Linked DNA regions of Homo sapiens. The protein of the gene in region 3 purifies or fractionates together with the protein of the main gene of each other region. This does not show direct contact. Each region holds a gene or a part of one and is shown on either strand. Other genes may lie near its edges. The genes, in order: DEF8, EDEM3, SERPINA1, HPX, SLC25A13, ANGPTL7 and STATH.

Region 1 (3,500 bases), on a different chromosome or scaffold from region 3:
GAAGTGGTCCTCAGACAGGCCGAGATCCATCACGCGTTCAGGGCAGCGGAATTCCGGCTCCCCAGGGGGCAGCTCAGGCAGGGCCTCTGGAGGAAGACGGGGACAGGTGTGGAGCGTCAGCTGCTACCTCCTGCCTCCCATCCCCTAGGGAGGAGCTGAGATAGCCAGGAGTGGGAAAGGGATTCAGGAAGCCGCACAGAAAGGAGGCACCGTGAGAGCTGGGCACCACTCAGATCTGCACACCGTCCAGTCTGCATTCACAGAGGAGCCCACAGCCTTGTGTAGACAGGAAAGAGCCACTCAAAATGAGGAGGTGGAATGACACTCGGTGCCAAAAGTCCTCAAGACAGCATTATAGAGACATCCCATTTCTAAGGTGGACACCTCATGCGTGACCACGGGGGCGAGAGAAAAACCACTGCATGGCTACACAGCAAAATCCACGAACCCCAGTGTCGACTCCAGGCCGTCTCTGCAGCTGCCCCGCTCCAAGCACTCCCTGATGACCTCATCTGCAGTTTCTAAAGCTCATGCCACCCTGACGCCCAGAGCACGTTCCCTCGGCTAACCTCTCCCTTACCAGGTCTCAGCGCTGACCGCACTCAGCAAGTGTTCCCTGAGCACCTACTATGTGCTGGGCCCTAGGATGCAGCAGTGATGGGTCAGGCACAAATCTTGCCCTCAGGAATGTGAATTCTAGTGGGGACACAGAAACAAACCACACGACCACAGAAGAGATGGGAAAAAGAACACAGCCAGCAGGTGCCGGCTCCGTGGGAAAGCCAGGGCTGCGCAGGACGCGGCAGGAAGAAAGGAGGGGTCCACGTAAGCAGTCAGAGACCTGCCCAGCTCCCACCCTGACTCCCACCAGCACCCACCTTCAGGAGTGACGTCCGGGACCTCCTCCCCAGGGCCCTGCTCATGCTGTCTCGGCCCAGACTGCTTGTTGAAGGGGTTGAGGTGGGCCTGCCGGAAACGGGCCAGCTTCTCATCATATTCCATAGCATCCCACCTGAGGGCCAGGCAGGGCCAGGATGAGTCCCCAGGTACCAGGCTCACCACGGACCACCCCCTTTCCCCAACCACACTGGGGTGTCTGGGGTGAGGCTGGCCTCTTTCACTTCCCTAAAGTGGGTAGTCCTCACACCACAGCCTTGATCTTCAGCCTTTTCCTGAAACACCTCAGCTGCCTCCTGCCCAGGCCCCCACTGGTGGCGTCCCCTTGGAAAGAGCTCACGGTGACAATGAGGGTCCCACGAGGGCACGTGGCCCATCTGAGGGGCCCAAGCTCCCTGCCTCCCAGCACAGGGTCCTCTTGCCCAATGTTGCAGAGCTCCAGCCCTAGAGCTACCTATGGGATCCTCTCTGGGCCTCAGCCCCAGATACTCACTCAGCCCCGCTCTAGCTTGCTATCCACCTGCTATGTGAGACACACCTCTCAGAAATGGGTTCCTCCTTCCTGGGCCCCAAGCAAAGGTGCTTTCTTGTCAGAGCACCCTGAAACCACAGCCCCTGTCTCAGGACTTAGGGTTGGACACTTGGGGACAGTTCCAGGGCCCATTCCTGCTCTGCCACAGGTGAGTGAGCAGGGCCCACCTTCCCCATGCCCAGGAGCAGGGGATCTTGGGAGGATTCCCTGCCAGCACACAGAGAAGCCCCCTACAAATGCATCCAGGCTCTCTGGCCTGGGTTCTGATCCTGTGATGAGCAACACGACCTGAACCAGGCCCACGGCTCTGTGCCTCAGGAACCCAGGAAACAGGCCGGAAGGGCCTAGTTCTCCACGTGGCAGAAGCTCAGGATCAAGAATTGCTCTTTCCCCACCCGGAGGCTCAGAACACTGCAGAACACACAGGGCTGATGGCTCCTGGCAGGGAGGAAGGGACTTTGGTTGGGGTGGGAGTAGAGGCAGTTGGCATCCAGCCCTCCCACTTAACTTCCTGGGCCACATTCCTTAGCCTCTCTGCCTCCATTTCCCCATCCGTAATGGGCCATTGTGAGGGTGAAATGAGTTAACAGAGACTGAGCACAAAGTAAGCTCGCTGTAAGGTCTGTTGATGTTATAGAAAGTCGGAGATGTCTTTTTAAAGTTGTTCAGTAACTGCAACAGTGTTAGTTATGCTTTCACTACACCTGCTACAGTGTTAGTTATGCTTTCACTACACCTGCTACAGTCTGAAATAATTCACAATTATAATAATCAATCCTATGATTTATCCTCTGTCTCTTCTCCCAAAAGAAAGAGAGCTGAGCCCAGAGGGGACGGCCCTGCTCAGGGTCACACTGTGGCCTGGAAGAACTGGGATTTGAACTAATTGCCTCACTGGCAGTGGGATAAGGAGGCCACCCCAACCCCACATGGCTGCCCTGCAACTGGGCAAGACTCCACACCACCTATGGGGCCTGTCCTGCCTGTTGTGCCTGTGGGGCAGGAGTGTGGGTTGGGCACCTGCACGCCAGCCTGAAAGGACAAAGCACCCATGGACAGGCTGCCCGTGGACCCCAACAGGGAGGCACGGGGAAGACACAGGGAACGTGAGTGGGCCCCAGTCCCACCTCCTTCTCTTATTACCTGATGACTGTGGGTGGGTCACAGAGTCAGAGGCGGCCACCCGATGCCAGCACCTCCCCAGTCTCCCAGGGAGCACCCAGGACACAGGAGAAATCAGGCCATCCCAACATCACTCCTCCTTCTTCCTGAATGAGGAGCCTCATTTTTGTTTGTCACATAATTTCCCAGCCTCCCCAGCAGCTAGACCTGGTAAAGTGACTGTTCTGACCCCCTCGGCTTGAGAAGATCAGGCAGATCTGAGCAGCTCTGGGCTCCTGGCTTCACTGACATACCCAAGTGCTTAGCCCTTCCATCCACCCCAGGAAGTACGTGTTCTCCCTGATTTATAGGCAAGAAAAGGGAGAACCAGAGACTAAATCAGGGCTATCTGAAAACAACAGTAATGGGCCGGGCGTGGTAGCTCACACCTATAATCCCAGCACTCTGGAAGGCCAAGGCAGGAGGACGGCATCCGGCCAGGCCCAATGCAATGAGGCCCTATCTCTATTAAATTTTATACAAATATGGGCTGGGCGCCGTGGCTCACGCCTGTAATCCCAGCACATTGGGAGGCCGAGGCGGGCGGATCACCAGGTCAGGAGATCGAAACCATCCTGGCTAACACATTGAAACCCTGTCTCTACTAGAAATACAAAAAATTAGCCAGGTGTGGTGGCAGGCGCCTGTAGCCCCAGCTACTCGGGAGGCTGAGGCAGCAGAATAGCGTGAACCCAGGAAGCGGAGCTTGCAGTGAGCCGAGAACGCACCACTGCACTCCAGCCTGGGCAACAGAGCGAGACTCCATATCAAAAAAAAAAAAAATCTTTTTTACATAAATATGTATGTGTGTGTATATACATATATATGTGTGTGTGTGTATACATACATATGAGAAAAAAGAAAAGACTTCTGAGAATTGTCCTTAAAGGTAGGGGCTGCCCCTCTTCAG
Region 2 (3,500 bases), on a different chromosome or scaffold from region 3:
AGGAATATGCCAGAAAAGCTCTTGATTTTCTCTGGGAAAAAAGACAGCGAAGTAGTAATTTAGTGGGCGTGACTATAAATATTCATACTGGAGATTGGGTACGAAAAGGTATGTAAGTTAGGCTTTTTAAATCAAGCCTTTGCATCCTCAAAATGGTTGGGAAATAAAGAATTTTCATTTGTTAAAATAATCTTTGGGATACTATAAAGCATAGGTTCTCACAAGATTGCTGGAATTTTAATTAATTTAGCCAGATTTTCTTTTTTGATGCCAAATGTGACACACTTCTTCTACATGATTTAGTATTCTATTTCTTAATGGATATAGCATTATAGGTATAGGGTGTAGATGAAACGCTATAATTTATTTGAAAACTAGAGAACCAGATTTCTGCAGCCATCTCACGTCAAGGTGTGGTTTAGTAAGAATATGGGTTTAATAAATTCTTTTTTTCTCCTACCTCCAGAAATATAGTAGCTAAGAGCATAGACTCTGGGGTCATGTTGTTGGATTCAAGCTATGTGATCTTGGGAAACTTATTTAACCTCTGTGTGCCTCTCTATTCCATATCTGTAAAGTGGGCATATTAATAGTAATTAGTTGTTCTGTATGAGGATTAAATGAGTTAACCAAAGTAAAGTGCTTAGAACAGTGCCGGGCATGTACTACACTTACTATGAAGTAAGTGCCCAGTAACGAGATGTTAGTCCTTTTGATTAATAATTTTACTTCTGGGAATCTAGTCTGAGGAATAATACAAAACATAGAAAATTATTTGTTCCCAAGATGTTCCCATGCAATTATTTATAAATAGCAGAAAATTGGGAAACAGTCTAACCATCAGTAAAAAAAGCTAAGAAAATTATTTTACATCAGCGTTGGAATATTGTTATTAAAATAAATCAGGAGCATGGGAAGGAACATGTAACAATGTTATATGAACAAACAGGATATTGAATTGTACAAAGAACTGTGATTTTATCTTTATAAAACACCCTGATAAGCATAGATGAATGGAAATAAATTAGAATATTCTTAATGAAAGCATCTTTTTTATACATTTTCTCTATTTCTAAAAAGCTTATCTTGTTTATATGTAAAATAAATGGTAACTGCCTATATTTAAATAAATAAAAATTATAAAATTATTAATTCAAACATATTAAAATTATTACCTTTATTCAGTATTGTATAAAATTTTTCTGTGTCATCTAAATGACAGAAAAGAACTTTTGACTCTTCACAGTCAGTTATTTCAGTAATTCAGGGTGATACTGAGGAAGCTAAGAAATGACTAGATTTACCAGAACATTTGAAACTCAAGACAATTTCTTCCAAGTTCCTAAAAGCAAAATATTGAATGGCCACTGATGAAAAGTCATCTTGTGTATTCATTCACTGTTTTCTAGTATTTCACTGCTTATAACTGTCTGGTCTCATCTTGGTTATAGTTTAAAAATCAAATATTTTCCTACATCTGTGAATTAAATAGTACAGTGTGGTTACCATATCATACTTCAGCTGTTAAATTAAATCCATTATGTCATAACACTAAAAAGACTCATTTAAAAATGAAGATTTAAAATAACATAATATGTTGATTTAAATGTACCACTAGAAAAATGTTGTGTCTTACAATAGAAATGAAATGTATATAAATATGGGTAAAAAGACGAGTCACTAGTTTGAGATGAGAACTATTATTTTCATGGTAACGTACCAGCATGTATGTGCTTGTATAGCATACACATAAACAGAGAAGGCTTAATGCATTTATAATGCAAATACAAATGCATTAAATAGAAGTTTGATAGTGTATTATAAACCTAAGAGGAAAAATCCAGACTTGTATTTTTGATATTTTGTGCATCAACATATTGCTACAAACATGAAAACTGTGAAATTTTTAAAATCATTTCCTTGCAGTCATAGCATTGTACCATCTTCATTTTTGTCTAGAGTTGGTTCAGTTCTAAGTGGTCTAGACTCCACCTGCCTATCATTTTTTTTTTACTGGTTAAGACAGTAAAATAGGTGTTTTTTTGAATCTATAGGTTTCATTTTTGTGTTAGATAACATTTCTTCTTTTTAAGAGTAGATATTATTATTGTTCTTTAATTTTTCTTGACTTTGGTTCTTTTTTCCTTTTTAGGAAAAAGCAAAACAAGAGACTTCATCTTTAGATTTCCTCAAGATTTAAGTGAATTTACTATTCATTTATACATACCAATTTCTTAAAGAACACAAGATGCTTATTTTCCACCTAGTGAAACTAAGAGCTAATTAAACTATGAACTAGTTAGCAAATTATTTATTTTAAATATAATTATCTGTTCCAGGGCAAATCTAAACTGGTGTAGTCATATATATGCACAATGTTAATTTAATGCTAATCTAAGGAGTGCTATTTTTTTAAAAAAATTTAACGGTTTTAAAAAAATTTAATGAAAAATCACATTTGTGTTTCCATAGATAGTGGAGTTGGAGCAGGGATTGATTCATATTATGAATATCTGTTGAAAGCCTATGTCTTGCTTGGAGATGACAGTTTTCTGGAAAGATTTAACACAGTAAGTTGATACAATTTTATATTTTATAATCAACTTCATTTGAGTCCAGATTTTTATAGAAACTCCATTACCTGAATGACATTGTAAAAATAATTTTTAAAATGTGTAGTGGTTTTGTGTCAGTATTTCCTGATGATGTTGAACAGGGACAGCGTAAAAAGTGATATACATTCCAAAAAATCAGTTGATAAAGTAGTTTTATTTTCACCTTTTATCAGAAACTTTGCAGATCTGCCAATAAGAGATGTAATAGATTTGAGTTTTACCTAATCTTGTTTGTACAAGGATAAGAATTATTGAAATATGTTACTAGTTAGCTTTTTCCTTTGTATTTCAATTCTTTTTGAAATCTTGGAAGTTTGGCTTAGTCTTTGATTACACCAAGGATACAGGGCTTTGAAGACCTGGAGAAACTAGTGAGTATTCATTTCAAAAGCAAGTCTTAAGACTGGTTCAGAACCACAAGCATGTTTTTTTGGGAAAAGTGGGAGGATTATTGAACCCAATTGAATCACCTTTTTAACTGAAGCAAACTGAAATGAATATAGCAAACTCATCAGTTATATCACTATATTCTTTTTAAACTAATCTACCATTTCCTTGCTCACCTATCAGTTCATCCATGTTGTATGTATGAGACAGTATGACATGGTGATTAAAAGTATGGAGGAGAATGGCGTGAACCCGGGAGGCGGAGCTTGCAGTGAGTCGAGATCGCGCCACTGCACTCCAGCCTGGGCGACAGAGCGAAACTCCGTCTCAAAAAAAAAAAAAAAAAAGTATGGGAGATGTACTGGTTTAAATTCTGATTGTACCACCTACGGGTTTTGTGACTTTGGGCAAGTAACTAATATTATTTGCCTCTGTTTCTCATCTACAGAATGGGAGTACTAGTACTATTTATAGGGTTATTGGGAGGATTGAGTTTAT
Region 3 (4,181 bases):
CCACACCCATCCATCTTTCCTGGTGTCACATCACCTACTCTGGTTTCCTCCTTTCACAGTGAAGAGTTTGAAGCCCAGAGAGGGTCAGGGCCTTGTTGAGGCTATACAGCAAGTCAGTGACAAAGCTGGAACAAGTCTTGGCTTTCCCAGCACTCAGATCATGAACTGAGACAGCTGTGTCCTCAGATCTCAGATGATGAATGTCAGAATTGGGCTGTGACATTGGTCTCAAGCATCATGTTGGGTTCATTATGCCTCCCAAGCTGTTCCTTATAACATCAGGACTCCAAAACCTGCTCTCTCCTGGCCCTTCTATCAGAGGCAGCACCCTGCACTCCTAAAAGCTAGTGCCTGGGAGGGCGACTGGAGAGGAGAAAGTCGCCATCTGGCCAAGTACCCCATGGTGTACGGACACTGAGGCCAAGCTTTAAACCAAAAGAATGAAGGCTTCATGGTGACATTTCTGGGATCGGGGCAGGTGGGAGCACTCTTTGCGGGGCCAGGGACAGGGAAGCGAGCCACTCCCTGCCTAATCTCACACCATTTCTACCCGGGAGCATAAAATAAGGGACCAAGAGCAACCCGGCAGGGTGCAGGGAAGAGAATCTCGCCTATGGTCAAACAACCTGTTGAACTGGGCAATAAATAAACCCAAGTGTGACCAGGCCCTGTCACTTACTGGCAGGGGGCCTGGGGTAAATGACTTCACTTCTTTGAGCACTAGCTTCATAGCTGTACAATGGAGAAAAGAATCCTTTGGACAGGGATGAGGAATAACTGACGTAATGCATGAGTGGGCACCAGGTGAGGAAGCCCTCCCTGTACCTGCACACAGGTTGAGCTCCTGCCCGAGAGATGGTAGATTTCTTCCCGGAGAGCCTGCTGCACTCCCCAGGACCATTTCAGCAGGAAGGGGCTCCTGCTCAGCAGTGAACAGCATCTGAGTTTGGCAAATTTTCCATTAAATTATCCAACTGTTTACTGCCTGCCAGCTGCCTAACCCTATGCTAAGCAAACATCAGCCTCAGCGTCACCATCATTGCCACACTTACTAACACCTGGTGTTTTACAGGCACCGTATCATCTAATCTGTCCTCAAAGCTTACCCTATAAGGTGCAAATTATTAGCCCTATTTTATAGATAGAAAAATTGAGCCCCAAAGAGCATTAAATAACTCACTAAAAATCACAGAGCTACTTGCTTACAAAACTGAGATGTAATCCTAAATGTTTTGTCTGGGATTAAACAGATTTCACTCCAAAACCTGACATTGAATCATCTCTGTGTACAAAGCTGAAGCCAGAAGTCTTGAATCAGAAAACTTCAGAGGCAGCCTGGCTAAATGAAGAGGGGAGCATCAGTCTGTGGCTAAAATTAAAGGCTCTGAGGCCAGATTGCTCCACGTCAACTTGCTATTAGCTGTGTGACCTTGGACAAGTTACTTAACCTCTCTGAACCTCAGTTTCCTGGAGATGAGAAAGGTGGACTTTGTCATAGAGCTATTGTGAAATTAAATACACATAAAATGCCAAGAAGTGCCTGCTGCGCAGCAAGTTCTCGAGAATACCAGTTCTTGCTGCTATTGCTGCAGGTCTTTTAGAGGCGTTCTATAGGAAACTGGCCACCTTGGCCTTGGTCATCTTTTTGACCTGTCTCCAAAACTCAGTGCAGGAAAAATTAAATCCTTCCAACACTTCAGAGATCAAGGTCGGGTGGGGTGAGGGGAGGGGACAGAAGTCAAAGGTTATCATGTTTTGCCCAAGAGAACAGAGAGGTTGAGCAACTGTCTGAAGTCACCGAGCATCAGAGAGGCCTCAAGTCCAGCCCAGGTTTCCTGTTCCCCATCCAGCGCCTGAGACCCAAGAGAAACAGTGACACTAGGGCCAGGTTCAAGAGTTTGGGGACTGGAGCCAGGTGCCTGAGCCCGAATTATGGATGGTGTGTGATTTGGGGCCAGTTATTCACCTCTCTGTCCCCATCTTCCTCATCTGTAAAATGGGAATCACACTAGTAACTGCCTTGGAGGGTTATGAGGCTTAATCACGCACTGAGCTTAGCCGTGGCCTGGTGCAGAGCGATTATTCAGGAATGCCAGCTTGAGCCCTGGGTGACAGTGCCCCTCACAGCTTCCTGTCCTCCACTGGGACAGGAGGGCCCAGAGGTCCACGGTGCATGGGGAGGCCCATTTTGATGTAAGGCTGAGGCCTGGCACAGGTCTGTTCCTGGTCATATCTGGAGGGGATGGAGAATGTGAGCCGGCGTTCCTCCCCACCCCTCTCTGGACCTTAACCTCCTCATCTATAGAAGGGGAGAAAGATGCATGCCCAAGCAGTAGGAGAGGTGGTGAGGCTTATAGGAGACAACAGACAGGAGCCCCCGACAGACAGAGGAGCTGTGCAAACAGAAAGAAATGGCTGCGCTTTGTTGCTGTTGCTGTATCTTGGCTGGTGTCCCCCATCCTGGGGTGCCAGGACTGCAGACCTAGACACCCTCATCCACTTCTGCTTACAGGAACCAGTGTATCCACCAGGAGGTACCGAGGGGGGACCGGGCAGGACTGGGAAACAGGACACAACCCTCATGGCTGCTGTTATTATGAAAATAGGAGCTCAGCTGCAGCCTCTCCATCTGCCCTGCACCTCAGCAGGCGGATACCCACTCCACAACCCCCCTCCTGCCCCAGACCTGCTGCCTGCCTGGGCCATGGGGAGCTCAGAAGCCTCTCCAGAACCTCTCGCAGTGAAAGGCATACTTACGATTCACTGTCCCAGGTCAGTGGTGGTGCCTGAAGCTGAGGAGACAGGGCCCTGTCCTCGTCCGTATTTAAGCAGTGGATCCAGAGGGGCAACGGGGGAGGCTGCTGGTGAATATTAACCAAGGTCACCCCAGTTATCGGAGGAGCAAACAGGGGCTAAGTCCACTGGCTGGGATCTGAGTCGCCCGCCTACGCTGCCCGGACGCTTTGCCTGGGCAGTGTACAGCTTCCACTGCACTTACCGAAAGGAGTCATTGTACCTGGCTCAGAAACCACAGCGTCCTGTGTCCAAGGTGGAGGGGGTGGCGTGAGTCAGACAGTCTCTGGGAGAGTACCACTTAGCTGGCCCTCTGCTCTCACTGCAGAATCCTTAGTGGCTGTTCCACTGGTAGCAAGATCTACCATTTACTGAGTCACCCCAAAATGCCTGATGCTGAAGACTTACTGCCGCCCTGGGAGATCAGAGTGGGTTAGAGCCCATTTGACAGATGAGGAAACAGGCTCAGAGCGGAGAGACCGCTCATCCAAAGTTACCCAGTCAGCCTTAGACACAAACACCCTCTTGATGGTCCCGATGGAAAAATGGAGCATGACTGAGGCAGACACAACCGTCAGGCTGGCATGGGGGGCCGTGAGACAGGGTAGAGGTGGGGAAGCACATCTGTAAAGAAGAGCTGTGCTGCCTCAGGCAGGCCGCTTCACCTCTCTGAACCAGGAACTGTTTCACCTGCATCCCAAAGAGTTGGAAGTTTCATTCCCAAGCATGCTTGTGAAGTGCCTCGGGTGAAGTGCCTGGCACACAGTAGGCTCTTTATGTGGGTCTGCACAGCCCTCTGCTTAGTCTGCCCCCCAGGCTGCTCAGAGCAGGAGGAGGTTCAATTTTGACCAGCCTCAGGCCTGTTTCTGTTTTTGCTCCTGGAAAACCAGTGTGATCCGTATACAGCTTGGAGTTTCTTTGGATACATGGCCCCCACTCTGGGGTTGTTGGAGGCCTTTGGAGACTGCTGGGGGTGGAGGGGAGGGGAGGTACAGGGTTGAGGCTAGTGGGGCCCCACTTGATTGCAATCCCTTTAAAAGCCTAAATCAGATTGCATCGCCCGCTGTGCAACCCGCAAACCTGCTTGGGAGCTGGCGTACGTGCCGTAGATACTTGCAGAGTGAATGGATGAGTGCATTTTTGCCCCTTCTGTCATTCACCAGTCCCATTTATGCCTCCACCTTGGGGCTCTACCAGGCGAGTGACCCACAGGATCCTCCAGCACACACATTCAGACCAGGGAACCCACTTACTGGCTGTGAGGCCTCAGGTGAGTTGTTTAACCGCTCCGAGCCTCAATTTCCCTATCTGTAAAATGGGGATGGTGACGGTATGTACCTTGTTGAGCTGCTGTGAGGATTAAAATGCAACAGTTCAAGGAAAGCTCA
Region 4 (3,500 bases), on a different chromosome or scaffold from region 3:
TGTGGTGGCATGCACCAGTAGTCCCAGCTGTTCAGGAGGCTGAGGTGGGAGGATTGCTCGAGTGTGGGAGGCAGAGATTGCAGTGAACCGTGACTGTGCCTCTGCAATCCAGCCTGGGTGACAGATTGAGACCCTGTCTCAAAAAACAAATAAATAAAATAAAATAAATATGGTTCCTGAGCAGGGTAATTTCAGTGGGAAACCTCCCAGGGGAGGTGGATATGTCAGTCACCGCTGTATACTCAGTACACGGCTAATAAGAGAACTTGTGGTAGCAGCAAGAACACTAGGTATTTACTCAACAAATATTTGTTGAGCATCTGATAAGAAGTGGGCATTGTCCTAGGCACTGAGATACAGTAGTCAACATGGCAGACAAGATGCCTGCCCTGACAGGCTCTGCTAAAGTGAGAGAGGACAATAAGAAAGAGAAAGGAAGAAAGAGAATAATTTTAGGTAATATTAAGGGTTGTAAAGAAAATAAGACAGGATAGTGGGATAGAGGTGAGGAGAATGAGGGCTGTCTTCTGAAGAAATGATTTTTGAGCTGAGACTTCAGTGATGAGAAGGAATTAACCACACGATGTGCTGGAGGAAAAGCATTTTAGGGAGGGTGAGCAGCACATACTTCAAGGAATCAAGAAGGAAGCCTGGTGAGGCTGGAACACAGAGAAAGAGCAGGTGGGTGACTTGAAAGGGCAGGGACGGCAGTGGCCAGGTTACCTAGACCTGGTAAGGGTTTTCAACCATAAAAGGGAGTCATCAGAAAGTCTTGAGCAGGGCTGTGATATATTCTAACTCATTTTTTATAAAAGATCACTCTGACTTTTTGCAGAACATAAGTTATAAAAGTACAAGCATGTAAGCAAGGAATCCAGCTAGCAATCCGTGCAGTTGTCCAAATTAGAGGTGATGACCGCTTGGACTAGGATGATAGCAGCAGAGGTGGTGAGGAATCACCATGATATATTTTGGAGGTAGAGCTGACAGCATTAACTAATAGCTAAGATAGGCCGGGTGTGGTGGCTTACGCCTGTAATCCTAGCACTTTGGGAGGCCAAGGCGAGTGGATCACCTGAGGTCAGGAGTTCGAGACCAGCTTGACCAACATGGTGAAACCTCGTCTCTACTAAAAATACAAAATTAGCTGGGAATGGTGGCACATGCCTGTAATCTCAGCCTACTTGGGAGGCTGAGGCAGGAGAATCGCTTGAACCTGGGAGGTGAATGTTGCAGTGAGCCGAGATTGCACCATTGCACTCCAGCCTGGGGAACAAGAGTGAAACTCCGTCTCTAAATAAATGAATGAATGAATGATATCAGTCAGAGTAGGGAAGGGAAAAGAGGCTTCAAGAATGACTCAGCTTTCGTGGACTCAGCAACTGAGTGGCTGGTGGTTTTGTTTTCTAAAATTGGGAAAGACTAGGGAGTGTGTGTGTTGGTGGGGGGCAGAAATCAGTTTGGGCATATTAGGTTTTGGGTGCCTATTGGCACCCCATAAGCATGTCAGGTAGGCAGCTGATTTGGAGCCTAAACCTCAAAGGAGAGGTCAGTCAGAGCTGACGAGAACAGATTGGAAGTCATCAGCATATAGATGGCATTTAAAGCCCCTGGACTAGGTGAGATTACCAAGGAAGTGAAGGTAGAGAGAGAAGAGAAGAGGCCCAAAGTAGGGGATTCCAATATTTAGATATCAGGTTGAAGAAAAGAGTAGTCAAAAAAGATAAGAGGAATACTGGGAGAGTCAGGTGTCACAGAAGCCAAGTTCCAAAAAAAGACATTTAAAGGAGAAGGAAGTAGTGAGCAGTCCAGTGCTCCTGAGAGGTAGGGTCAGATGAGAACAGAGAATTGACCATGAGATTTCGCAAATTGGAGAATACTAGCAACCTGGATAAGAACAATTTCAATGGTTGAGGGAAACAGAAGTGTAATTGAAGAGGATTGAGGAAAAAAGACAAATGGGAGCCTAGATAATTCCTTAATAAGTTGTTGTGAAAAGAGGAGAAGAAAAACGGGGTGCTAGCCCAGCTACTCCCTCACTCTTCCACCACCTCATAGGGAGAGACTGGAGAACACAGCCAGAGTGAGAACATTCAGTAGAAGTGGTGCTTCCTTTTTAAGTTCTGGACACTGTATTTCATTATCTATAACCGCATCTCTGTACATGGACACCTGAAATCCTTAGGGAGTGCCCGCCAACCCCATGATGTTGGCCTTACCTGGAAACTTAGCCACTGTTTTCCACACTTGCCTTTCTTTCAGGCACCTGCTGATTCCAGTTTCAGCCAGGGCACAGTGCCCAACATTGCTGACCAAGTCTTGCTCTATTTCTCCTTCTCACCTGGCCTCTTCCATCTTGGCCTCTGGATGCATTCTCTCCCTCTCATGACTCATTTCTGCATTCATCACTAGCCTCTTCTCTGCCTGGGCTTCTGCCAGCGGCCCTAGAGCAACCTATGGTATTCCACAGGGACCCACTACTGGCGTCTGGACACCAGCCGGGATGGCTGGCATAGCTGGCCCATTGCTCATCAGTGGCCCCAGGGTCCTTCAGCAGTGGATGCTGCCTTTTCCTGGGAAGAAAAACTCTATCTGGTCCAGGTGTGTATTGGGGGAGAGGCTTGAGGTAGAGACTGGGACAAGCATATCCAACTCTGTATTTATTACCATCCTTTGTCCTCCAGGGCACCCAGGTATATGTCTTCCTGACAAAGGGAGGCTATACCCTAGTAAGCGGTTATCCGAAGCGGCTGGAGAAGGAAGTCGGGACCCCTCATGGGATTATCCTGGACTCTGTGGATGCGGCCTTTATCTGCCCTGGGTCTTCTCGGCTCCATATCATGGCAGGTGAGGGGCTTCTGGGTGCTTAGAGGGCAGCTTGTTCTGCTACCTGTCTGTGGCATAGATCCCCACCAGGGCATGAGAAGGCCTAGGTCAGGATCCCCAGGGCATGAGAAGGCCTAGGTCAGGATCCCCATGACATGGAAGCCATGCTATGTTTGGTGCCTTCTCCCCAGGACGGCGGCTGTGGTGGCTGGACCTGAAGTCAGGAGCCCAAGCCACGTGGACAGAGCTTCCTTGGCCCCATGAGAAGGTAGACGGAGCCTTGTGTATGGAAAAGTCCCTTGGCCCTAACTCATGTTCCGCCAATGGTCCCGGCTTGTACCTCATCCATGGTCCCAATTTGTACTGCTACAGTGATGTGGAGAAACTGAATGCAGCCAAGGCCCTTCCGCAACCCCAGAATGTGACCAGTCTCCTGGGCTGCACTCACTGAGGGGCCTTCTGACATGAGTCTGGCCTGGCCCCACCTCCTAGTTCCTCATAATAAAGACAGATTGCTTCTTCGCTTCTCACTGAGGGGCCTTCTGACATGAGTCTGGCCTGGCCCCACCTCCCCAGTTTCTCATAATAAAGACAGATTGCTTCTTCACTTGAATCAAGGGACCTTGGTCGTGAAACAATCTTCTTTCTTTGAGTTGAAAAGTTAGCACTTCTCC
Region 5 (3,500 bases), on a different chromosome or scaffold from region 3:
GCCGTTTCAGTTCTTTTATCTGTAAGATGAGAGTGACTGCTTTTAACTTCTCAGAGGAGTAGTAAGTCAATATATTAGGTACAGACAGAGGCTCACTGTAAACACCCAAGTGGCAGCTCTTCACCCTTTTCCTGGTTTAGAAATGGCCATTTATCTTTGGGTGCCCCAACCTTAAGGGCAAGAGACAGAGCTGTCTGTCAGGATGATGAGTAGAGTGTGAATATAAGATTAGTTCTAGGAGTCACCTGTGTTCATTTCTTCCTGATATCTTTTCTGGTAAACCATTTTAAAACAAAAAATTTACTGTAAAATTTTTGTTTAGTCCCATTCTGTAATTTGGATCATCTTGAGAGCAAAATGATGACTGACAGTTCAGGTTAAAATAATAATGATACATAACTTTGCCATGAAAATGACTTGTTCCTATTCTTGATTGGTCAGGGATCAGTTCTCTTTAGTTTCTTGTACATCATCAATAATTAATAATTGTATATAACTGCATATTTGTAAGTGCTTATTGGGTAAGAGAGATCAGATGAAAATGTAGGTAACTCATGGTTATTGTTGTTAATTTAAAAAATTACAATATAAGTAAAAAAGACCTGACATATTTCTGAGACTCAGTATTATCACCTTTATGTACAAAGTCACATTATGAAATACCTATATGTGATTCTTTGTACATTTCTCATAAAATGTAACTTTATTTTAAAATTATATTATTCCAGAGGAAAACTGTTACGTTTAAATTAGGAAAATATAGTATTGCTGCTATTAATGCTTTCACCTAGCAATATTTGAGAAGGTATCAGAGTACATCTTTAATTCATACATGTTTTTAAATATTGAGCATAGTTTTTAGTATTACAGAATTTTGCTCAACATGTAATTTTTCTCTATCAAGGCCTATGTAATTGCTCATATTTCCTGAATGAGATAATTTGGGAATGTTGCAGTTGTAAGATCTTTCTCCTACTTTAAAATTACCTTTGTGTATACTTTGAAAAAAGTTGGCATCTGGCCTCAAAGAAGGTGTTTTTGTAGCATGCGATCTTATTATGAGGTTAATAAATATCTCTTTTTCTTATAACAAGAATATCAGAAGCTGTTTTTGCATTTAAAAGCCTTTCCCTGTGGCATTAGAATGAAGGTTATTTTAAAAGAACTCTTGTAGTGCTCCACCACAAGTTTTGTTCTTTGCCTCCCCCGCAGCTGGCTGCATCAGAATAGTTGTGGAAGTTGCTTGGTAGTCATGAGAGAGTGCCTAGCAGTGCTCTTCAATAGAAATATACCTCAGAGAGTCATGAGAGGTGTTGTGAGTTGGTTAATTCCTGCTCTCCATGTATTGGTATAACTCCGTTTTCTTTATTTCCAGGAGCCTCTCTCCTATTTTTGTGTAAGTTTTAGTTGCTGGAAAAGAGCTCCTTAAAAATCCCATGAGTCTGGCTCTGCAAACCTTCTCTACAGTGCAAACTACTTTTTTCCTAACAAGAAAATGGCAAATTTTCCTAGTTTGTTGTTGTTGTTGTTGTTGTTATTTCTGAAAATCCAACCCCCAGGCCAAGCCTGTCTGTATTAAGGGAAATCACACCTGAGATAATCCAGGTCTTCCTGAAGTCACTTTTAAAATTCTTTCTCTGTTTCCTCCCCAGTCTTCAGAGTGATTTAATGTGCTCAGGTATTTGAAATCCTTAATGAATTACCTGACAACTTGTTTGGTTTGAATGACTGGCATAACCAAATGAATCAGTCATTGGCCTGCTATAGATCTGGCGTATTAAAGAACAACAATTGATTGGGTAATCATCCATAATTAAATGCTCTTAATGTTCCAGGAATAAATAATTTCTGCTTTTAAACTTTGTTGCAGTCTTCTCTCTCAGATCTTTCAGGTGATGAGATGAGCAGCCTTAGACACTGGAAAATGTTTTGGGAGAATCTTGGGGAAAAAGATGTATTAAGAGAAATATGGCCGGGTACGGTGGCTTATGCCTGTAATCCCAGCACTTTGGGAGACCGAGGCGGGTGGATCACCTGAGGTCAGGAGTTCAAGACCAGCCTGGCCAACATGGCCAAACTCTGTCTCTACTAAAAATACAAAAATTGGCTGGGCATAATGGCGGGCCTGTAATCGCAGCTACAGGCTGAGGCAGGAGAATCGCTTGAACCCAGGAGGATGCAGTGATCTGAGATTGTGCCGCTGCATTCCTGCCTGGGAGACAAGAGTGAAACTCTGTCTCAATTTAGAAAAAAAAAGAGATAGAAATCAGGGTCTATCAGAAATACTTCTTAGACGAAAATTTTTGTTTCTATTGATGGGAGAAGCCCTAAAGAAAATCTCCCAGAAAGAGTAATTAGATCATTTTATGAATTAAACTTAATTTAAGCAGTGCTTAACCTTTGAGGAAATTGGCAAAAAAAAAACCACATTTTTTAATCAGCCCATTGATCCAAGCTTGCAGAGTTGTAAATATTTCTATTTCAAGTTGTCTGTGTAGTGCAAAGCAGTCATCTTCCATCCTGGAATGTTCTCAAGGTGACATCTAGAGGATGTTGTGGTGATATCTCAGGGAGTTATTGATACTTTTATATTGCAGAGGGAAGTTTTGGCAGGCAGCTAGTTTAAGCCAGGTCCCTTATCATTGATGGTACTATAAAAGGGAGTATCCAGATTCTTTAGAATCACAGTGAGATTCTTCATTCTTGCATAATTCATGGGGATAAAATAAACTTTAAAATTCTGGCACCAAAATAAAATGATTGAAATTTCCATGACTGTTTTGCATTACTTAAGAACACATGCATCTTGAAACAAACCATAGTTAATCTGTGAACTGCACTCATGTCCATCCATGTCCACCAAAACTTTTAATGATTGCAAAATGGATAGGTTTGAGTCTTTATTTTCTTGGCCAATTTCTGCACGTTTTCATTTAGAGCATTAAGCTATAAAAATATCAGAAGACATGTATTTGGTTATAGGAAGCCACATAAGAATGAGCAGAAGATTTCAACAGATCATTTGTTGGGTTAGCCAATCTCCAGAAATCTACAGTGAGCTAACTTTAGTGAGCACAGGGCATTGTAATCTGAGACTGAGGCGACACACACTGGATCTAAGGTGGGTGAGAGAATTGTTAGAGACTTGAGAGTGCTACAGTAACAACTGATGACCTTAGAAAATTGGAAAAATATGACAAAAAGATAGACGTGTAGGTATCCTAGAGAAGAGGTTAATGAATGAATTAGTTCCACACCTCAAAAATGATAATTTATAACCAGCTACTGTTGCTGAGACTAAAACAAGGGAGATAGATTAAACCTCAGTAGGAGGGAAATAGTTTAGATAGAAGAAAAGATAACCAGGATCCTGAACGTTCTCATGTACTATGGTGAAAAACTGCAGGAGTATCTGATCGTTTTCCCCAATTCTCTTTACTTCTAGAAAGCCCCAGAATAGAGGAGTTGAGGAACTGATTTTTTTCCAGACCATAATCATA
Region 6 (4,042 bases), on a different chromosome or scaffold from region 3:
TGTGGGAAGGACCCACGCTGACTACAACAGTACAAGTAACTGCCTGAGTGGCTCCATAACATGGAAACAGCAATCGTATGTTCCAAAGACAGAGTTACTGTTTTAAGGACAGAGGAACCTTTGTATAGATTCTTAGTGAAAAGCTTATTTTAAGGATGTTTGCTGAAACTCCATGTTTTTCACATTTCTTTTCAAAAGAGCATTGTCCTTCATATATAGTACATGAAAAATTACAATATTCATGTTTTTTAGATACAAAGTCATATACAAATAGAGGAGGAATAATTTCAAATTGCAAACCATACCAGCAAAGAAAGAGGGAAATGAGACTCTAGATATGGATTTATTAGGTGACAGGGATTCTTTTCTCTATATTTTAATATATTTTCCAAGTTTTGAACCACGGGCTAAGGATGGGCCTGTTCTCTGTCCTGCCTAGAAACTGACAGAAGCATGGGTGACCAATCCCAGACATGCTTGGCACTGCTGAGTTTTCATCTCTGTTGTAATCTTCTGACACCTCCTTGCAAAATATCAAGTGTTATATGCTAATACTGGCCCTCTCTTTGTTGAAGGAGAAAGCATGTAAAAAGACAACTGTCCAAACCCTGTGGCTACAAAGTCTTTTTTTGGCTTCCTAAGAGATTTACTCTATTCTTCTATTTCTAGAACTTTTCTAAGTTGGAAGATTTCAAATGTGAGATAGTGTTAGATCCAGGTTGAGTAAGGATTTTATAAAATACTAAATAATGATCAGAGATGGGAATAATCAGCCTAGATAAAAGCATATTCAGCAGGATGTCAAAATATACCAGATCCTCATATAAACAGCATGGATTACATTAACAGGCCTCCCTGGGTGAGTAGCGTCTCTTTCGCCTACCTTACGCTCACCCCATGGTTATATAACCTTTTGAACGGAATTTGGAAATTCTTCTGACCCTGTCCTGCTTGCTGATAGAGTTGAGCCAGTGGCTGGCAGGGGCATAATCTAATAGGCGAAACTGGAAACACACAAATTCACAGTCCTCTTGTCTTAGCCCAGAGACTGTACAGGCAAGGAAAGAAAGACTCGCCCCATCTCCCTCCTCCCCTCCTCTGGCCTAAGTTGCCGCTGACTTCACCCAACAGGCACCTGACCCTCCCAGATGAGCTGGGAGGGGCTAAAGCCTGGTGCAGCCATGGTAGGGGTGGAGGTACAGGCAGCAAACAATATTTAAGATGCTGACTTGTGGAGCATTCGGGCTTGGAAGGAAAGCTATAGGCTACCCATTCAGCTCCCCTGTCAGAGACTCAAGCTTTGAGAAAGGCTAGCAAAGAGCAAGGAAAGAGAGAAAACAACAAAGTGGCGAGGCCCTCAGAGTGAAAGCGTAAGGTTCAGTCAGCCTGCTGCAGCTTTGCAGACCTCAGCTGGGCATCTCCAGACTCCCCTGAAGGAAGAGCCTTCCTCACCCAAACCCACAAAAGATGCTGAAAAAGCCTCTCTCAGCTGTGACCTGGCTCTGCATTTTCATCGTGGCCTTTGTCAGCCACCCAGCGTGGCTGCAGAAGCTCTCTAAGCACAAGACACCAGCACAGCCACAGCTCAAAGCGGCCAACTGCTGTGAGGAGGTGAAGGAGCTCAAGGCCCAAGTTGCCAACCTTAGCAGCCTGCTGAGTGAACTGAACAAGAAGCAGGAGAGGGACTGGGTCAGCGTGGTCATGCAGGTGATGGAGCTGGAGAGCAACAGCAAGCGCATGGAGTCGCGGCTCACAGATGCTGAGAGCAAGTACTCCGAGATGAACAACCAAATTGACATCATGCAGCTGCAGGCAGCACAGACGGTCACTCAGACCTCCGCAGGTAAGGAGACCAGTCCCCTGAGGGAGCGTGGAGTGCCTCCCCATCTACAGCACTGCTTCTACATATCCTGGTCATCAGAACCACTACTGGGGCCTCTTTTGTGGGTACACTTTCCCTTTAGTAAAGGCTTATGCAGTATTTCCTTTGACTTCTAATGCTATGTAAGTTTACCTAACACCTTCACGGGTCTCTTTTATCCACACAGTGTTTCAGCCTACCATCTTGGAGTGCTGAGATACTACATGGTTTGCCCAAAGTCACCCAGCAAGTCTTAGAAGCAGGGTTCAAGTCTTCCTGATTGGTGTAGCTCTGCTACTTCCTCACCAAGAGCTGACAGGCTATATCTCAAGAAATTCCAAGGAAGCACCAAACTGTAACAGCTGTTCCTCTGGAAGCAAAGTTTTGCCAGAAACAGTTCTCTGGTGTTCCTAAGATTTACCAGGAATGAGCATTAATGGAATTTTGTGTCCTCTCTCTGTAAACGTAACTCTTCTCATTGGCTCAGAGTTAAGTGTAGAGACACATAACCATGTGAAGAGTCCCTTTGTGTTCAGGAAGGATGCGGCTCCTTAAGGTTCCTCAATTGTGATACGTCTATTTTTTTCCATGGTCTTAAATGAATTTCTCCGAATACAGGATTTTTTAAATGCAATGCTGAAATATAGACTTAATAGGCCAAAAATAAGATAAATTTAATCTTTCTTTTGCAAAATAACTTTTATTTCTGGTTAGCTCAGCTCAGGTGGGCCAACATGAATTTACGGTTTAGAGATAAAAATTTGGTTTTCTGAAATTATCAGGAAAATATTAGTTGTAAGGAGCATATCCTATAGACATGTCATTTCTTGCTGATATAAAAACCATTGGTCCCATTATAAACTACATGAAGAACAAAGACATGATCAGCTTCTACTGACTAAGTCAATGGTTAACCTCAGCTCAAATTAAGAAAAAGTTTTAACATGAAACCAAGCTTGAAAATTCTGTTACCTGAACCAACATGTATCAATCACTTTCTAAGCATGGACTTCCGGGCCCTCAGTTTGGGATTAGAAAGGTATTCTCAGGCCATTTTCCAGACAAGTGAGTCCTGATTTGGTCTGTGAGATGAAACCAGACATGCGGAAGACCAGGCCAGACAGAGGAATCTGACCGTGCCACTTCCTGCTCATCCAAACAGGAGGCTTTCTCACCATCCTGCAAGGAGGTTCTTGGGGTCAAGTGCAGCTCTCCCACCAGGTCTCTTGCTCTTCTTGCCCAGGACATCATTCCTTATTTTTCTTCTCTATGACCAAGTGCTCAGTTACCCTTATATTCTATAAGTAGGTAGTCCCTTAGAGGAAGCAGTAAGTTGGTGCTTTCACCACTAAGACGAAATGAAGAATAGTGATGGCGAAGGCACACGTACTCTACCTCCCTTTCCCAAGGTGCTCTGCAAGAGAACCTATGTGCCTCAGACAACTCCCATCTGCCATCTTGGTGCTCCTCTCTAAGGTCCCAGTGCAGTGGTCACCAAGAAAAGCACCCCGAGACATAGCAGGCAGGAAGCTTCTCTTGGATAGTAAGGGCCGCAGTCTCTGAATCCTATCAGAAAAGGCTGTCTCTTCCACTATGCTCTTTGATATTTAGAATACAGAGCTTAAATCCTGCATAAAGTAGCAGCTCCATGGCCCTAGAGTAAAAAAACTGGCCAGTCTGATGCTCTCATTTCATTGTTTTAACAAAACTTCTGGGAGGAAGGCCTCAAAGGTTCTTCTGAGTGTTTTGAGGTGCTAGCTGGATGGAAGGGGAAAATATGTGATAATAAAATCTATCTCCCTTAATTATGGTCTCAGGTGGCAGTAGCCACCATCTCTGAACAACAACAAAAACAACCAACCAGGAAACATCAACAAAACCAGACTCTATGAGATATTCACGACTGATTTGTTATAGTGGCGGCTGTCTAAGAAGTCTGAATCTATCTGACAGGAGTATCTGTTACGTGGCCCTCATACACTGTAACATTTCTAGAATTCATGGCCCAGCTATAGCAGAATAATTTATTTCAGAGTTAACCTGAAACCACCTGTTGGAACGTCCCACTAATGCTATCCAGGTGAAGGGCTTCCCTACCCCTCTGCTCCACCGCTAGTAAAGCCAAAATACACCCCCTCTGGATCTCCCCATATCCACCTCTCCCAAATGCAGACACTGATG
Region 7 (4,240 bases), on a different chromosome or scaffold from region 3:
AAGCTCTCAGTTCCACATATTTAAGAAGTTCAGTAAAACTTTCTTTTATTTCACACTAAGCTAAATATACTTTAGTGTCTGTAGATGAATAATGACTATTTATTCTAAATCCTTATATAGCTTATGTAGGTTAGTACAAAAAAAAGTTCATATGGAAACATTTAAACATATAAAGCTGTATTCAAGTAAACACCAATATATGCCAGAACACAAGGAATAGAGAGACTCTTGGGATAGGTACTGAGAACATATTCTTCAAATGTCCTGATATACTTACAATCATGGAAACCATGAGAGCCAAGATGAAGGCAAAGACAAGGAACTTCATAGTTGGCTGGGTTCTCTGAAAACATATGTGGAAATTCAGTATCACATTTTTTCTTGCATTCGCCCATCAAAAGTTTATTGATTATACTACGCTCCAAAGCACTGGGAGACACACTCCAGATAGAAAGACAATTAAAACCCATTGCCTGACATCATGAAACTTGGAGACTTGTTGGAGACACTGATAAGTAAAAGTGAGTGTATTGATATGGAAATGCTAAGGCATTAGAGTAACACACAAATCAACACCTTACACAGACCAAGAGAATAGGGGTATGAAGGTAAAGAAGAAAGTAAAGCTTGAGTTGGATTATGCAGGATGAGTAAAGAGGTGTTGGGTGACTGCAAGAAAATGAAAAAGAGGGAGGATACCATATTGAAAGTGCAAACAGTTCAAAATGTAGGGAAGATAAAACTGGAGCAGTTTATCAGAAGATAAAACTGGAACAGTTCAAAATGTAGGGAAGATAGAACTGGATATTATGGGGCGCCTTAAATAATGACATTAGGGATGATATTTAAGGTACAGTGTAAAGAGATGTTTGGATGTTAGAATGACCAGCAATGGGCAATCGCTTTATAATGTTACTGAAAATGAGCCAGATTTCTGTCTTGAGAGTTGCAAAAATGGGGTCACCTTCAGATTAGAACATTAATGATACTGGGTAGAGAACAATCAAACTGATAAGAAGTCACAGAGAAAATATTCGTACCTCCTCTGAGAAGTTGAATTGGTGAAGATGACTTAATATTTTAAATAATCTCATTCAACAAAATTAACCTTATCTGGGACTGTGATATGTTATCATAAACAGTATAAGCCAGTTAACCCAGTTCCTTTGTTATTAAACAAAAAACGTTAGATTATTTATTTGTAAATTATAAACATCTAAATAAAGACATTTTCAGTGAAACACATAATTGCCACAAGAGTTACAAATAAATGACATTTTTACCTGTTTATTGAAAACTATAGAGTAATTCATATAAAGGTAATGGTCTTCATTATTTTAATCTCTTTTACCAATAACTTGTGATAAAACATTACAAGAATATTTTTTACCTAATTATAAAAAAAATTACTGTTATTAATAACCCCAAATCTCCAAAACATAAAGCAGAACTCATGATTTATGGCATTTGCTTTGTTACTTATTCACTGATTTGCCTCAGTTATTCAAACTGAAATTTCTGGCCGGGTGTGGTGGCTCATGCCTGTAATCACAGCACTTTGGAAGGCCAAGGTGGGCAGATCACCTGTGGTCAGGAGTTCAAGACCAGCCTGACCAACATGGAGAAACCCCGTCTCTACTAAAAATAATAATAATAAAAATTTAGCTGGGCATGGTGGTGAGTGCCTATAATCCCAGCTACTTAGGAAGCTGAGGCAGGAGAATCACTTGAGCCCGGGAGGTGGAGGTTGCGGTGAGCCGAGATTGCACCATTGCACTCCAGCCTGGGCAACAAGAGCGAAACTCTGTCTCAAATTAAAAAAAAAAAAAAAAAAAAAAGGAAATTTCTGGTATTAGAGTAAGTGTAAAAATAATATGTACTTTGGGGTTTTTCTATCACCTGATAGATAAACCTACCCATCAGTCATTTTATGATGCAAAAAGCATAAAAACTTTAGTGTATTTTATACCTGTAAATTTTATTGAAAGTATGGAATCAAAAAATGCTCATAGAAGAGTAGTTTTGTTTTACTAACCTTGATAAACTGAAAGATGGATATATAGACATAGATATATAAATATATATGTCATGGTTTTAAAAAAATATTTCCCCAATGAAAAATAATAAAAATATGAAATAGTAAAATCTTTGTTTTCTGCCATATCACAACTGAATGAAAACAACTTAAGTAATATAAAACAGTAAGGCAGTAAAGCATGACTGTTATACAACATTTTTTATTATGCAGAATGACATAACTGTTTAAAATGATGGAAAGGTCAATGAAAAGGTAGTGAGAAATGTTTACTTATGGGAAAAAAGTAAATTTTTAAAAGTTAAACTTGTGAAACAATATATACATTTGCAAAAAAGAGAACGTATGCTATTTTCTTAAAATATGAACTTCGAATAAAGGTAAAAGTAGTAAGTAGCAGAGTAGATGCCAGTACGTAGACAAGGAAATAAAAAGCTTTTCAGAAGTTCCATCAGGAGAGAAGTTGGAATATGTCTCCATATTCCACATTATTTACTTTGCATGATGATTGCTGATTTCAATGTATAGTTATTCAGATTCTCAACTTACCTTCAGATCCTAAGAAGGTCATCATTTCTCTCAATTGTTTCTTTATGAGAAATTATCATTACATAAATACACATTTTTATAATTAGTTTTCAAAAGATTTTAGGAAGCAACACTCTAGATTAAGACAACATATTCGATTATACATGAACATATTACCTTTTACTCAAGATGAGACTACAGAAGTAGTGAAGTTGAAGTGAAGCTTCAAGAGATGATGTGCTACCCTAGAGGGCCAATGTATTTAAACACTCTGAAGTCCCCCATTTGTTTTTGTTAAATAATGGCAATTATGAGATCACATTATGGAAACTAAAAGTAATGCCCAAAATCTGTCTCTACAAATGATAAAAATAACCGTAACAAAGTGATTTTGCAATAGATGATTGTGAAGACAAAGTAACCAGGAAACAACTGTACCCACTGCATGTTAATCCCACTGTTAGTCTAGCGCTGAGTGAGTCAGATGACAGAAAAGCATGCTGGAGGAAACCAGGCATAGAAATAATTGCAGTGATAAAGATGTTTCCACAAGTATGTGTCCAAGGTGGAACAACTCTATGACACAAATAATACTTACCATGTTATCAAGATTTTACATGTTCTCTGATAACTCGTGGTAACTGGCATAATAAAATTACAGTCTTCATATACTTCAAGAGTTTTTCTTCAAATCATTATTTATCTCATACTTTTACCATCTTCTATTGACTTTAGAATATTTTAAGTTACAAAGTGAACGTAAACATTTGCCAAATTCAGTAATCTTTTGGGTACTATATGATAAAAAATTATTATATTTATGGTGAAATGACTCTAAGTGCTCACTGATACATATCTCACATATGACTGAATATATGTATTTGGAAATTCAATTTAATTTCCTGGAGTTTTTAAGGCTACATATTTTTCCATAGCAGCCATGTGTTGACATGATTACACTAGAGTGAAGGAAAAAATGTTTTCATTACATTCCTAGGAAAATTTGTGTAAAAATTACCCTACTCACTGCTGGTTGGATAACTCAATGTACTAAGAAACGAATATCAAAAACTTATATATAAAGTTGAGGTAAGTTATACAGCCTAGTGCATTGTTCCTCAGAGTGTGCCATATGGGAACATCACAGACAGCATCAGCTGGAGCCTGTGGAAATGTAAATTCTTAGTCCACCTTCGCAAACTTGCTGAGTCAGAATCTTGGGGTTGTCCTAAGGCGTTTGCATTTTAACATTATCTCCAGGTGATTCTTTGGGTACTGTGAAGTTTGAAACAAGGCTGGTCTCAGTGGCTCATGTCTGTAATCCCAGCACTTTGGGAGGCCGAGGCAGGAGGATTGCTTGAGCATAGAAGTTCAAGAATAGCCTAGGCAACATAGTGAGACCCGTATCTCCACAAAAACATAAAAAAAAAAACAACCACATATTTGTCTCTTGAATGCATTAGTTATCCTTAGGCTTTAACCAGTAAAGATAATTTGTGGTTTAATTTTGTATCAGATTTTTTAAGGAAGTATTTATTAGGTAAATTTTTATGCTGTATTGGAACAGCCTTACTGGAAATTATGATTACTCTCTGGGTAATATACAAGAAAATATAAATCATTTCTTAAGGCAAATAAATAATTCAAATTAAATTAGATAGATATTATTCTTATTCT

Evidence for each region.
Region 1: the proteins of SERPINA1 (region 3) and DEF8 purify together in Homo sapiens (co-immunoprecipitation; one large-scale study listed by IntAct). This does not show direct contact.
Region 2: the proteins of SERPINA1 (region 3) and EDEM3 purify together in Homo sapiens (affinity purification with western blotting, with the first as the bait; one study listed by BioGRID). This does not show direct contact.
Region 4: the proteins of SERPINA1 (region 3) and HPX purify together in Homo sapiens (affinity purification with mass spectrometry, with the first as the bait; one large-scale study listed by BioGRID). This does not show direct contact.
Region 5: the proteins of SERPINA1 (region 3) and SLC25A13 purify together in Homo sapiens (co-immunoprecipitation; one large-scale study listed by IntAct). This does not show direct contact.
Region 6: the proteins of SERPINA1 (region 3) and ANGPTL7 purify together in Homo sapiens (co-immunoprecipitation; one large-scale study listed by IntAct). This does not show direct contact.
Region 7: the proteins of SERPINA1 (region 3) and STATH purify together in Homo sapiens (affinity purification with mass spectrometry, with the first as the bait; one large-scale study listed by BioGRID). This does not show direct contact.

The regions. Positions count from the first base shown.
Region 1 is NC_000016.10:89,951,755-89,955,254, reverse strand, and holds part of DEF8 (differentially expressed in FDCP 8 homolog), read right to left. Parts: exon of another isoform or gene 2,573-3,500; intron 1,879-2,572; exon of another isoform or gene 1,735-1,878; intron 1,013-1,734; coding exon of another isoform or gene 1,003-1,012; coding exon 879-1,002; intron 87-878; coding exon 1-86. UniProt on the Homo sapiens protein: Positively regulates lysosome peripheral distribution and ruffled border formation in osteoclasts. Involved in bone resorption.
Region 2 is NC_000001.11:184,720,359-184,723,858, reverse strand, and holds part of EDEM3 (ER degradation-enhancing alpha-mannosidase-like protein 3 isoform 2 precursor), read left to right. Parts: intron 1-2; coding exon 3-108; intron 109-2,472; coding exon 2,473-2,570; intron 2,571-3,500. UniProt on the Homo sapiens protein: Involved in endoplasmic reticulum-associated degradation (ERAD). Accelerates the glycoprotein ERAD by proteasomes, by catalyzing mannose trimming from Man8GlcNAc2 to Man7GlcNAc2 in the N-glycans.
Region 3 is NC_000014.9:94,385,803-94,389,983, forward strand, and holds the start of SERPINA1 (alpha-1-antitrypsin precursor), read right to left. Parts: upstream 2,801-4,181; 5' UTR 2,758-2,800; intron 1-2,757.
Region 4 is NC_000011.10:6,430,988-6,434,487, reverse strand, and holds the end of HPX (hemopexin precursor), read left to right. Parts: intron 1-2,470; coding exon 2,471-2,601; intron 2,602-2,684; coding exon 2,685-2,847; intron 2,848-3,017; coding exon 3,018-3,277; 3' UTR 3,278-3,439; downstream 3,440-3,500. UniProt on the Homo sapiens protein: Binds heme and transports it to the liver for breakdown and iron recovery, after which the free hemopexin returns to the circulation.
Region 5 is NC_000007.14:96,179,099-96,182,598, reverse strand, and holds part of SLC25A13 (electrogenic aspartate/glutamate antiporter SLC25A13, mitochondrial), read left to right. Parts: intron 1-3,500. UniProt on the Homo sapiens protein: Mitochondrial electrogenic aspartate/glutamate antiporter that favors efflux of aspartate and entry of glutamate and proton within the mitochondria as part of the malate-aspartate shuttle.
Region 6 is NC_000001.11:11,188,113-11,192,154, forward strand, and holds the start of ANGPTL7 (angiopoietin-related protein 7 precursor), read left to right. Parts: upstream 1-1,242; 5' UTR 1,243-1,467; coding exon 1,468-1,843; intron 1,844-4,042. UniProt on the Homo sapiens protein: Has a role in the formation and organization of the extracellular matrix.
Region 7 is NC_000004.12:69,994,526-69,998,765, reverse strand, and holds the start of STATH (statherin isoform a precursor), read right to left. Parts: upstream 2,801-4,240; 5' UTR 2,741-2,800; intron 344-2,740; 5' UTR 329-343; coding exon 278-328; intron 1-277. UniProt on the Homo sapiens protein: Salivary protein that stabilizes saliva supersaturated with calcium salts by inhibiting the precipitation of calcium phosphate salts. It also modulates hydroxyapatite crystal formation on the tooth surface.